Regions from separate parts of the Homo sapiens genome. Here region 2 is linked to region 1. Evidence: fine-mapped expression QTL. A gene starts in region 1. The other region holds a variant in brackets. All regions are shown on one strand. Distances are between the middles of the regions.

Region 1 (2,917 bases):
ATGAAACCAAGGGCAGTTATGTCTACAGACACATTTACTGCCCTAAAAGCCAAGCTCGATAAATTGCACAACATAATTTCCATAACTAAACCAGGTTTGTTTAATTTGAATGGCAAGACCTAAAAGGTATAATATAAAGGAATTACAAGACAGAACATTAAAAGACTTTTTTTATCCTTAGGTGGAGAGTACTGTATCTTTTAAATACCTTTCTTATTCCCCTCTCCCCCAACCTTATTAAATTCCTTAAAGGAACAGACCATCTTTGTTCCTATGCTGCAATCTGAAGATCCATGAATAAAGCAGGCACCCAGTAAATACTTGCTAATTTGTGTATTTGACCAACTCTTGACAATTCAATATAACAGACTCAAATATCAAGTTAGTTATAGTTTAAAACAAAACCTTTGTGTGCCCTAGTGAACAATGTAAACACAAATAGCAGAATCCCAAATCTTCTAATCATTGTGTTGCCCTAAATACAAAAGGGTCTCATAGGCCGAATACAGTTCATAAACCAAAATCTCACGTGAGTTACCTTCTCTCTTTCTCTCTATCCACCTTCTAAGTCCATAAAAAATTGAAAACATTCTGAAAAGAACTCTCTCCTGCCTGAGAAAAAATACACCACACATTTAGAACCAAAAGCTTGCCATAAGGGGGCAAAGAGTGAAAAACTCTCATTTCTAATACTTTATTAGAATTCCAAGAACTACGCAAATTCAAACATGTCAAAGCGCCTGTTTCTCCATCGATAAAATGCAGAAAGAAAAACGTGTGTGTGTAGTAGAACCTCACCTAATGGGATAATTAAAATCAGAAAAAGCTAAATACTACTACTGATTAAAAGTTGCCTTGTCATTTGTCTTGCCAGTTGATCTCTTTAAAGTACCTAATCAATCGCTGCAGTCCGCAAACGGCAGTTCCTTCCCATTGGTTACCACAGAAAGTTCTTTCCTGACCTCAAATTGCCTAGTACGTTTCAGCCTCGATGCCTGGTTGGAACCCACAGTTTACCAATATCTGGGGATTGAAAGGACAGGCCAGTGCTGGGGAAATGCTCAAACAGCCTACTCAACACTACCCTCTGGATTCAACCGTCCTCCCAATCCCACAACCAACACAGAGCATTTCAAAAGTGCTTCGCATTCCCAAGAATCCCTCAGATGCAAACGGAGAAACTGAAAAGGGGGTGAACAGGTCGCACCCTGAGGATAATGCCGAGAACCCTAGCATCCCCAAAAGCCCACAAGAGGAAGTCGCGGGAGCTCACAAATTGAGGGGGATTCTCGCATTGTGGAGTTCTAGGGGTAAGTAGCAGGGAACTTTTTTAAAAAGAAAGCAAAAAGATAAAAAGAACAGAACCTCAGATTTTTGTTATTTAAAGAGGCAGCCCCACTTCCGGATCCTACCTCTCCGTGACTCTACTTCCGGTATCTTCCAAAACGCCCGCTTTCACAGATCAAGGTTTTGCAACCAATGAGAGTATCAGCTACTTCCGCCGGCCTGCGGGACGTGATCTAAATCCCGCCTTTTCCGGTGGAGAGGAGCCTATCCTAGTGTCTTAACCGCCCGTCTTGGTAGGCGGTGCCGTGACAAGCCCAACCGGACGGCTGGAGAGGGCGAGAAGGGCAGACGGGACATGCAGCCTCTTCCGCCTGAGCCCCGGAAGGGTGATGTGGCTGCGGCATCGCCGGCCTCGCTATGGTAAGAAGTGGGGCTCCCAGGTCGCGGTTGATCTTCGAGAAGGGGTTGTGGATCTAGACTAGGGCTGGAGTTTGTGCGGCAGCCCGGGGTGTGTGGGCCCGGAGCTGAGAGGCCTTGGAGCCATGTGGTCCCTCCACGGCCAACCAGAGAGAATCAGGACGGACTGTCCGAGGAAGACTGCTGGGTCGGCAGCCCGCCCCTCATGCAAAGTCCGCTTTCCTACTTTGTTTAGGAAAAAAAAATGCGTTGGTGTGTTTTAACACGTTGGCTACGTAGATTATGTGTGGTCATTGACCCTTTGAAGCATTAGCGCTTCTCGAGTTTCCGCTTGTTTTGTTGCAACTCCTTATCTCGCCCTAGGGGCTTTACTCTGGTGTTATTGTTTGATTTTTGGGGGGAGTTTCTTTTGGCACCAAACTCCATACCTTCATTTTCATCTGTTTAGTCAGTAGCCTCTCAAGACCCTTCCACCTTCTTCTCTTAACTTTGAAAATGCTGCTTTACAAGCTATAGGTTTTAATAGTTAAGAGTTCTCTGCAAAGGTGGATTGCCCTTCTAGGAGCTTAATGTACTTATTGGAGTGGTGTCTAGCCTCAGGCCTTCCTCCTCTTTTACCTCCAGGTCCATGTGCCAAATGTTATGTATATTTCTGGACAAAGGATGCATGCCTGCAAATAGACCCAAAAACAACTATGACTCCAAAAAGCTTGAGTCTCCATGGTGAAAAATTATGAGCCTATGTTCACAGAAGTTGCTGCAGAATCCCATATAGCAATAATTCATTTTCTTCTCTGGACGAATTTACCACCTGGTGGGAAGATGGCAGTTGAGACTAGGAAGACTGCCACTCTTAATTCTTATACATCTTTCTAGAAACTGAAGTTGAATTCTTCTACTCGTAGTGCAAGTCAAAGATAACTCTTTTTATTATCTCACTGTCAGACTAGCTAAAAATAAGATGCATATACTGTGCTTAAGATCAACAGTATATAAACTATCTTGTCATGCTTGTTTTTCCAAAAGTAGCAAATGCTTTCATTTATTATCACGTCCTATGTACCAGGCTCTTTTCAAAAAATCAGTTTATAAGCATGGAAATATCAAGTTCACAGCAACTTCTGAATAGATGTTTACAAGTGAAAGAAGTGAAACATGAAGAGACTGACTTGCCTCGGATCACACCTAGTAGATTGTAAAGCCAGTACTCAAA
Region 2 (2,917 bases), 50 kb before region 1:
TACCCATCTGACAAAAGGCTAATATCCAGAATCTACACAGAATTTAAACAGATTTACAAGAAAAAAATCAAACAACCCCATCAAAAAGTGGGCAAAGGATATGAACAGACACTTCTCAAAAGAAGACATTTATGCAGCCCAAAAACACATGAAAAAATGCTCATCATCACTGGCCATCAGAGAAATGCAAATCAAAACCACAATGAGATATCATCTTACACCAGTTAGAATGGCGATCATTAAAAAGTCAGGAAACAACAGGTGCTGGAGAAGATCTGGAGAATTAGGAACACTTTTACACTGTTGGTGGGACTTTAAACTAGTTCAACCATTGTGGAAGACAGTGTGGTGATTCCTCAAGGATCTAGAACTAGAAATACCATTTGACCCAGCCATCCCATTACTGGGTATATACCCAAAGGATTATAAATCATGCTGCTATAAAGACACATGCACATGTATGTTTATTGCGGCATTATTCACAATAGCAAAGACTTGGAACCAACCCAAATGTCCATCAATGATAGACTGGATTAAGAAAATGTGGCACATATACACCATGGAATACTATGTAGCCATTAAAAAGGATGAGTTCATATCCTTCGTAGGGACATGGATGAAGCTGGAAACCATCATTCTCAGCAAACTATTGCAAGGACAGAAAACCAAGCACCACATGTTCTCACTCATAGGTGGGAACTGAACAATGAGAACACTTGGACAGAGGATGGGGAACATCACACACTGGGGCCTGTCGTGGGGTGGCAGGAGGGTGGACGGATAGCATTAGGAGATATACCTAATGTAAATGAGGAGTTAATGGGTGCAGCACAGCAACATGGCACATGTATACATATGTAAAAAACCTGCATATGTAACCTAGAACTTAAAGTATAATAAAAATAAATAAATAAATAAATGACAGATGACTTCTCAGCAAACAAACAAACAAACTAACAAAACTAGCCAGAAGGCAGAGCAATGCTCTTAAAGTACTGAAAAAAAAAAAAAAAGTCAACTTAGAATTCTCTACCCAGTGAAAATAACTTTTAAAAAGAAAGACAAAGTACAGACTTTGGAAGATACATAAAATCCGATAGAATTCATCCTAAGCAGACTCACATGATAAGGAATATTAAATGAAGTCCTTCAAACAGAAGAAAAATATTATTACATGGAAATCTGGATCTATATGGAGGAATAAATTGCTCCAGACCTGATCATGCACCATTAGGCCCCATTTCCTCACACTGTTGAATTGGGGATGGTATTAGTCCGTTTTCATACTGCTGATAAAGACATACCCAAGACTGGGTAATTTATTTAAAAAAAAACAAAAACAAAAACGGTTTAATGGACTCACAGCTCCACGTAGCTGTGAAGGCCCCAGAATCATGGCAGAAGGTGAAAGGCACATCTTACATGGCGGCAGGCAAGAGAGAATGAGAACCAAGTGAAAAGGGTATCACCTTATAAAAGCATCAGATCTCGTGAGACTTACTACCACAAAACAGTATGTGGGAAACTGCCCCCATAATTCAATTATCATCTACCAGGTCCCTCCCACAAGATGTGAAAATTATGGGAGCTACAATTCAAGATGAGATTTGGGTGGGGAAATAGCCAAACCATATCAGGGGTTAAGTTTTCCACACACAAATTTTGGGAGACATATTCAGACCATAGTATTCCACCCCTAGCCCC[C/T]CAAATTCATGTCCTTATAACACACAAAATACATCCATTCCATCCCAGTAGCCCCAAAAGTCTTAACTCATTTCAGCAGCAACACAAAAGTCTAAAGTCCAGAGTCTCATCTAAATCAGATATGGGTGAGACTCAAGGAACAATTAATCCTTAAGCAAATTTCCCTGTAAAATCAAACAGGTAAGTTTTGTCGCTCTAAAACACAATGCAGGCGTAAGACAGGTATTTCTATTCCAAAAAGAGAAACAGGAAAAAAGAAGGGAGTTGCAAGTCCCAGAAATGTCTAAAGCCCAACAAGGCATACAATGTTAGACCATAAGGCTGGAGAATAATCTTATGTGGTTCCATGTCCCACCTTCCAGATACGTTGGAAGGATTGAGTCTCTAAGATTTGGACATTCCTGCCCCCATGGCTTTGCTGGCACAGCCCACATTACAGCTCTCACACATTTAAAACCTATGCTTGTAAGCTTTGCCAGGCTGGCACTGCATACCGTGGCTCTTAGTTCTGGAGTATTCAGGTGGCCTTCTTCCCACAGCTCTACCAGGCATTGCAGTAGTGGAGAAGGGGGCTCTCAGTAGCAGCTTATACCCCACAGTTCCCCTGGGCATTGACTTTGTGGGGGCTCTGTGGCAGCCCCATCCCCATAGCAAGTCTCTGCCTGGGCCTTGAAGCTCTCTGCAACAGCCTTTAAACTGCATCTATTTGCAGATAACATCACTGTTTACAGAAAAAATTCTCAAAGAATCTTAAAAGCAAACAACAATAACAACAAAAAACCACCTAGAACAAATAAGGGAATTTAGAAAGTTTGGAGAATATACGGTTAACACAAAAGAAGTCAGTTGAATTTCTATTAATAGATGCTCATAATGAGCCACTGTAAACTCAAATTAAAAATATAATACCACTTATAACAGTGCCAAAAAGACTGAAATACTTAGGCATAAATCTAACAAAACATGTATAGGATCTGTATGCTAAAAACTACAAAATTCTGATGCAAGATTTCAAAGTAAACCTATATAGACATACCATGTTGATAAACTCTATGACTCAATTTTTTTAAATAAATAGAGTAAAACTGATTTTAAAAGTGTATGTGGAAAGGCAAAGTAAGTAAATTATCTAAAATAAAATTTTTCAAAAGAATAAAGTTGGAAGATTCACGTAACTCAATTTTTTTTTTTTTTTTTTTTTTTGATGAGATGG

The links. PIP is the estimated chance that this variant, and not a neighbour inherited with it, causes the effect.
Region 2: its variant is the best candidate, but not a certain one, in a credible set for the expression of XRCC4 in testis (GTEx, PIP 0.62).

What each region holds. Positions count from the first base shown.
Region 1 is chr5:83,076,111-83,079,027 of GRCh38, reverse strand. XRCC4 (X-ray repair cross complementing 4) reads right to left here and starts at 1,481. Exons shown (of 8, transcript NM_003401.5): 1 at 1,413-1,481. It overlaps TMEM167A (transmembrane protein 167A), which reads left to right and starts at 1,634. Exons shown (of 4, transcript NM_174909.5): 1 at 1,634-1,707. The coding sequence starts at 1,705. RefSeq lists enhancers at 587-1,552, 1,627-1,896, 1,553-2,518 and a silencer at 1,477-1,566.
Region 2 is chr5:83,125,977-83,128,893 of GRCh38, reverse strand. All of the region lies in intron 3 of XRCC4 (X-ray repair cross complementing 4), which reads right to left. Among named protein-coding and RNA genes, the nearest start is that of XRCC4, 50 kb to the right of the region's middle. The variant C/T (reference allele first, on the strand shown) is at 1,705.